2 linked regions of the Homo sapiens genome follow. The protein of the gene in region 1 interacts with the protein of each later gene in a pairwise test. Each region holds a gene or a part of one and is shown on either strand. Other genes may lie near its edges. The genes, in order: TGFB1I1 and HIPK3.

Region 1 (3,624 bases):
TTACTTATGTTTTATGGATGAGGAAACTGAAGCTCTGAACCACACAGCAGGTTAGTGGTAGGGTGAAAATTCCAACCATGTTACCATTTATTGTGGTCCTACTGTGTGCCAGGCACTGTGCCAGCTCCTTTACAAACCCTCATCTCATCTGATCTTCACAAAACACTCTGTGGCTCCACCCAATATCTCTCAGGCATCTACAAAGGCTCTCTCTTCCTCCGTCAGAGTCTGGACTGGGTTCACTGGTCCTTGTTTTATTGACTGAGCAGATGTGATTGACAACAGCTGTGCCTAGGGGTTAACCTAGTGCCCCCTGCTAGATCAAGTACCTGACTCCCAGCCCAGAATTGCCCATCTCAGCAAAGGAGGGTGGCATTGTGACTTTTGTGGATCATAGGCACTTTCATCTTCATGAGTCCCTTCGTCCATTAAAATAAATAGATTTTTATGTCTGTGTTGGTGTAAAGATGGGTATGTTATTATTGTGTATTACAGCATTTTCTTCTAGTTCATTTTTTTATTCTGAATTTTTAAAAACGGATTTTTCACTTCCTCCCTCTTATTTATTTTGAGGCAAATTCTCACTCTTGTGACCCAAGCTGGAGTGCAGTGGTGCGATTGTGGCTCACTGCAGCCTCGACCTTCTGGGCTCAAGTGATCCTCCCAGCTCAGCCTCCCGAGTAGCTGGGACTAAAGGCGCCCGCCACCTCGCCCAGCTAATTTTATTTATTTATTGTAGAGATGGGGCTTCGCCATGTTGCCCAGGCTGGTCTCAAACTCCTGGACTCAAGTAATCCTCCCACCTCAGCCTCCCAAATGCTAGGATTAGAGGCACGAGCCACCCAGCCTGATCGTATTTTGATTTTAAAAAAATTAAAACGTTTTTATGGGCCCCTAAATGTATTGTGGGCTCCAGGCGCTGTGCCTGCTGTGCCTCATGTATAGGTCAATCCTGGAGCGCAGCTGGAAGACGGAACACGGGAGCTAGATCTCCATCGCTTACAGGCTGCGTGATCTCGAACACTGGATTCTTTATTCTGATCGCTCAGAGAGGACTCGAAAAACGCCGCGTAAATCTTGCCTCACTGGGCATGTGGTTGTCAGAGCCGCTCTGACCCGCCTCACCTCCCACTCGCAGGTGGTGACGGCTCTGGGCCGCGCCTGGCACCCCGAGCACTTCGTTTGCGGAGGCTGTTCCACCGCCCTGGGAGGCAGCAGCTTCTTCGAGAAGGATGGAGCCCCCTTCTGCCCCGAGTGCTACTTTGAGCGCTTCTCGCCAAGATGTGGCTTCTGCAACCAGCCCATCCGACACGTGAGCCCCGCCCGGCCGCACCGAGCCCGCCCTATCTCACCAGGAGAGCTGTGGGACGGGCCTCCACCGCATGGGTCCCGCCCCACCCGCGATACCCCACTCCACCCCTACCCCTTCCCCTTGGCAATGTCCACGGCCCCTTGGACTCCACTCTTCCTTTCTGACCCCCACGTTCCTAGTTAGATCTTCTCCCCCTCCCCCCACGCATGCCTTAGTCCAGTCACCCGGGTTCCGCGCGGGAGAGGAAGGCGCGAAGGCACGGAGGCCGCGCTGAGTGCCCTCTCCCTCCCTGCAGAAGATGGTGACCGCCTTGGGCACTCACTGGCACCCAGAGCATTTCTGCTGCGTCAGTTGCGGGGAGCCCTTCGGAGATGAGGGTGAGAGTGAACTCGACTCCCATCTTAAAAGCTGCGGGTCCCCTCGACGTCTCGCCCCAGCCCCTCCGACCTCCGGAGTCCTCAGGGCCATGGTTTTCCTTCTGCTCTCTTCTGGCCCTGCCCTCTCCTACACAGACTCCGGACCCGAGCCCTCCCCGCTCTGTCCCGCCATAGACCCGGCTCCTCCTTCCCCAAGGCTCCCTCGGACTGCCCCTCCTTCGGCCCCAGATCTCAGGTCTTGTGGGTCCCCCGTCCCGCCCGCACCCTTTGCTTTCAGCCCACTCGGTTCCCTCTCCTAGGTTTCCACGAGCGCGAGGGCCGCCCCTACTGCCGCCGGGACTTCCTGCAGCTGTTCGCCCCGCGCTGCCAGGGCTGCCAGGGCCCCATCCTGGATAACTACATCTCGGCGCTCAGCGCGCTCTGGCACCCGGACTGTTTCGTCTGCAGGGTGCGAGCTGCGGGGCGGGGCGTTGGAGGGGCGGGTCAAGGGTACAGGGCTGTGGGGCGGGGCCTTGGAGGGGCGGGTCAAGGGTGCAGGGCAGGGGGCGGGCCCTCGGGGGGGCGGGTCACGGGAGGTGCTGCTAGGAACCTCGGGTGGGGCGAGTTTTCCGGGCAGGGTCCCACCGGACGGGATTCTTCGCGTCTAGGGCGGGCTGCGGGGTCCCAGGGCGTTATCCGCTAGTAACGCGCGTTGTCTGGCAGTGGCCGCTGACCTGTCTGTCCTCTTTCGCGGCTTCCCTTCCCCAGGAATGCTTCGCGCCCTTCTCGGGAGGCAGCTTTTTCGAGCACGAGGGCCGCCCGTTGTGCGAGAACCACTTCCACGCACGACGCGGCTCGCTGTGCGCCACGTGTGGCCTCCCTGTGACCGGCCGCTGCGTGTCGGCCCTGGGTCGCCGCTTCCACCCGGACCACTTCACATGCACCTTCTGCCTGCGCCCGCTCACCAAGGGGTCCTTCCAGGAGCGCGCCGGCAAGCCCTACTGCCAGCCCTGCTTCCTGAAGCTCTTCGGCTGACAGCCCGCTCGGCTCGCCCTCTCCCCCGGAGGCCGCGCCCTCCCGGAAAAGCCGGGTCCTCCAGACCCCGAGGCCTTGCTCTCAGAGCGGGAGGCCCCACCCACTGGAGAGCCCCGCCCCTAAGGTACTATGAGTCCTCAGGGGTCAAGTTCAGAAACGGCCCAGCCAGACCTAAACCCACACGCCCACAAAGTGGATTGCACACAGACAAGAACTCCCGTGCGGGCCTCCACTCTATTCCCACCCTTGAGGGAGCCCCCTTACTGGGGGAGGGTCCTTGCAATTCCAGCGAATCGGAGGCCAGGCCAGGACGTCCTTGCTCCCTGCACCCTCACTGTTCTGTGCACTTTTTCTACCTACATAAACACACGCATTCCACCTCTCCCTGGTGCTGTCTCTGAATGCGCGCAGGAGCTTGGCCCTGACTCCCCACCCCCGCGCTGGCTCTGTCCCCGGCCGTCTCTAGGTCACTGCCCTGTGGCCGCAGCGGGACCTGCAGCCTCAGCCCTTGCAGGTAGCCACTCCTGCACTTCCTACTTCAAGTATCAGATGAGCCTGAGGCTGGAAAGTGTGGCGACTCGCGCAGGACTGTACAGATAGTGGCAGAGCCAGGACAAGAGCTCCAACTGGGGCCCCACCGAATATTCCCGCCCTCATTACTCTTTCTTCAGTTCTATATTTTGTTTTGTTTTGTTTTGTCCTAAGAGATGAGGTCTCACTTTGTCGCCCAGGCTGGAGTACAGTGGTGCCATAGCTCACTGCAACCTCGAACTCCTGGTCTTGAGCGATCCTCCCGCCTTGGCCTCCCAAAGTACTGGGATTGCAGGTGTGAGCCACTGTGCCCGCCCTTCCCTTTATTCTTGAAATAAGCGCTTACAGTGGTTCATGCCTGTAATCCTGGCACTGTGGGAGGCCAGGGCG
Region 2 (3,817 bases), on another chromosome or scaffold:
AGTATATTTGTGTTTTGTTTTGTTTTTTTGAGACAGAGTTTTGCTCTTGTGGCCCAGGCTGGAGTGCAATGGCATGATCTCGGCTCACTGCAACCTCCATCTCCTGGGTTCAAGTGATTCTCCTGCCTCAGCCTCCCAAGTTGCTGGGATTATAGACACCCACCACCACACCCAGCTAATTTTTGTTATTTTTAGTAGAGATGGGGGTTTCGCCATGTTGGCCAGGCTGGTCTTGAACTCCTAACCTCAGGTCATCCACCCGCCTCAGCCTCCCTAAGTGCAGGGATTACAGGCATGAGCCACTGCACCCGGCTGTATATCTGAATCTTAAAATCATTAATCAGAATAACTTTCTGAATCCTTATACAGGTTGAGCATCTCAAATCCAAATATCTGAAACTTTTTGGGCATTGACATGACACTCAAAGGAAACGAATTTTCAAATTTGGGGGTGCTTAACTAGTTGGCAGTGCAAATATTCCAAAATCCGGAAAAATCTGGAATCCAAAACACTTCTGGCCCCAAAAGTTTCAGATAAGGGCTACTCAAACCTGTATATAATTTTTCTAAATGTTCAGTTACATATGATTGATTATATCTTTAATAAACTATTTCTCTCAAGTGCTAAAATGCCCAATGATATATACAAAGATTAATGTAAATACTTTCCAACATTTAAAGACTTCTGTTTGATCATTATTAATCACCTATCATTCCTTCAAGTCTTCCATTAAAAATAAAAATAACCAGATGTCTTTGGCATGGAACTTTGCAGTGGAGATTTCTATCCTGCTTGGGTAGATTTTATGTCTTGATTTTTTTTAATCTCTTTAAAACGAACCTAAATTGATCCTCTCTTGATTTCCTTATTTAACTGAAGTGGTCTCTTCTACCACAAACACACACAAAAGTATTTCATTTAGCAGAAATTTCACATTAATAAACAACCAAAAAGTATGGAGTTGTTACCTACCTGTAGTACCGAGATTGTAGATATGTTGAACAAACAGTCTTTGATACATGACTGGCCGACCCAAAGTCTATTACTTTAACCCTGTAAGGCTGCCGAACAGGATCCACCAACATAATATTCTCTGGCTTGAGATCAGCATGAATTAAACCAAGACTTTTCAATTTTTTCAGTGCAGTGGCCACTTGTTGAAGAATGGGCCGAATCACTTTTAGTGGCAGGGGACTAAATTTATTTTGTTTCAGAAAGTCATACAAGTTTTGTTCCAGCATCTCAAAGACTAAACAAGTATGGTTACGGTGCTGAAAGCATTCATAAGCTCGTACAAAGTTATATTCATCAGCATTTTCAGTACTGAGCCTTGCTAATATGCTCACTTCTATTTGACCTTGACGGGCATAAGAAGGATGATTCTTCAAAATTTTGATTGCTACAATTTCATTTGTCCCTCTTTTCCAGCATTTAACTACCTGGCCAAACGTGCCTCGACCAAGAAAATCAAGGACTTCGTAAGTATTTTTCATGGAGCATAAGACTTCATGCTGTACTAACTGATAGTCACCTTCTCCAGTGGTACAATTCTGTTTTGATCCTGTGGTAGCTGTCACAACTGTCACTGGATTTCCCATGTTGGTTTGCAACATTGCAGGAAGTATGGACAATTCATCGACAATCTGCATTGCGCTGCTATGATTATCCAACTCCTCACTCTTGCGCTTCAATCCACATCGCTGGGGGCCTTCTAGGAAATGCAATCTGTTTCGCCACGCCCCAATCTGAGGTGCCTGCACGTGAGCTTGCTGTGCCTGAGCTGCTATGACCTTTGTAGCACCTGCAGTGTTTTTCAAAACAACAGCACTTGTCTGCAATGAAAAGTTGTGTCCTCGAGGTCTATTAAATGGTATCTTTGTCTGAAAAGCACTACCCTTAGTGGGAGGATGAGAATTTCCAAAGTTTCTACCATTCACATAGGTCCGTGGATAGTTTCTTTCCTGGAATACACAACTGCTTGGCTCTACTTTGAGTTTCTTCACACTACAAAAGGCACTTGACTGAGTTTGATAAACATATGGTGGGTAGACCAAGACTTGTGAGGCCATACCTGCAAAAAAAAAAAAAAAAAGGAAAAGAAAAAAAAGGAAAGAAGAAATATTAATGTCAACAATTTTTTTTTCAATTTTAAATATCAGGAAGAAAACTCTTAAGGGTCAAATTCACAATTTGTAAAAAAGTAATTAATTTCCATGAAGATGATTTTTTCCCTTGGAGAAGATAACTATCTTTATAATATCTCCATTTCAGTTAATTGGTGCTTCAGCTATTCTGAGTATTGCGTTAAAAGGCTAAGAATAAAGAATCAAGTGCATTTAATTACTTAACAAATATTTACTGAGAAGCTGAAATGGCCAATATGCCCTAGAAACGGTGCCAACATTTTCCCTCAAAAGAAAAGTATAGATCCCTGTAATCCTAGCACTTTGAGAGGCTGAGGCAGTTGGATCACTTGAGGTCAGGAGTCCAAGACCAGCCTGGCCAACACGGTGAAGAAATCCCAACTCTACTAATAATGCAAAAATTAGCTGGGGATGGTGGTGCATGCCTGTGGTCCCAGCTACTCGGGAGGCTGAGGGAGGAGAATCGCTTGAACCTGGGAGGTGGAGGTTGCAGTGAGCCGAGATTGCACCACTGCACTTCAGCCTGTGAGACAGAGCAAGACTCTGTCTCAAAAAAAAAGTACAGATCCTTTAACTGTACACATTTGACAAAAGTAAAACATTCTATTACCAAATTCAAATGTATGAACCAATGACAAGAAAAGAAAATATACATTATATAAACATAGTTTATAGCCATATTTCTTAAACCTAAAGCCCAAGAATTGCCTCAGGAGGAAAAAAAATCTATGTCTGCTTTAACTATATATATATATATATATTTTTTTTTTTTGAGACAGAGTTTCGCTATGCCCCACCTATGGCAGGGATTTTAAATAAAATTAGGGTGCCAATTTCATGAATAGCTGATGCTACATTCTATTTACTAAAAATATTATCCTTTGATCTTAAAAAGCATTATATTACAAAGACAAGTTAATGACTTTCTACCCAGTTATATTCATGTTCCCATTCTTCTCAATGTGTACTTTATTATATGGATATTCCTTTAAACTTCCTCCAAATATATTGGAAAATATTTGAAATTTTCAAATCATATTTTCAAATCAAATTTCAAATCATATTTGAAAAACAGATTTAAAATCATTCTAAGGTTCTCAAGGACTAAATGACATTCTATTTATTTTATGCCTGCATCCAAAAAGGATGTGAGTTTATTGAGGCTGAAATAGCCAACATTCTTACCACACAACCATTAAATGTATAATGATTTTATAAACATTATTTGATTCAGATATAACATAGATATGAAAGAGGATCCAGTTTTATTCTGGCATATTTAATATTCTCCCCTATGACCTTATTTTACCAAATTAGAATTTATAAAATATGAAATCAACCTAGCAACTGCTGACCTATCTATAGGAACTCAAAACATATACACACATAAGAATGAATCCTCAGTACCATAGCTAGAAAAACTGATAATTACACAGGTGTTAGATCTGCCTTCCATCTACTTGGTCTGCCACAACAATATATAAACGTGTACGTCAAAACCACCATTTGACAGAATCATCACTTTAAGTAATACTCCATGTTTTCTACTTGCACAAAATTATCTTGGAATTTCCCTAATGGTAAAATCCTAATACAAATGATCAAGTGTAAAAATAAGCTGAGAAGCCAGATACAGGAACTTTGCATTATGTTCTCTTAATGTTTTTCTGCA

The links.
Region 2: the proteins of TGFB1I1 (region 1) and HIPK3 interact in a two-hybrid assay, tested with the Homo sapiens proteins (one large-scale study listed by BioGRID and IntAct).

The regions. Positions count from the first base shown.
Region 1 is NC_000016.10:31,474,874-31,478,497, forward strand, and holds the end of TGFB1I1 (transforming growth factor beta-1-induced transcript 1 protein), read left to right. Parts: intron 1-1,138; coding exon 1,139-1,312; intron 1,313-1,607; coding exon 1,608-1,689; intron 1,690-1,988; coding exon 1,989-2,137; intron 2,138-2,436; coding exon 2,437-2,703; 3' UTR 2,704-3,085; downstream 3,086-3,624. UniProt on the Homo sapiens protein: Functions as a molecular adapter coordinating multiple protein-protein interactions at the focal adhesion complex and in the nucleus. Links various intracellular signaling modules to plasma membrane receptors and regulates the Wnt and TGFB signaling pathways.
Region 2 is NC_000011.10:33,284,668-33,288,484, reverse strand, and holds part of HIPK3 (homeodomain-interacting protein kinase 3), read right to left. Parts: intron 2,073-3,817; coding exon of another isoform or gene 2,071-2,072; coding exon 974-2,070; intron 1-973. UniProt on the Homo sapiens protein: Serine/threonine-protein kinase involved in transcription regulation, apoptosis and steroidogenic gene expression. Phosphorylates JUN and RUNX2. Seems to negatively regulate apoptosis by promoting FADD phosphorylation.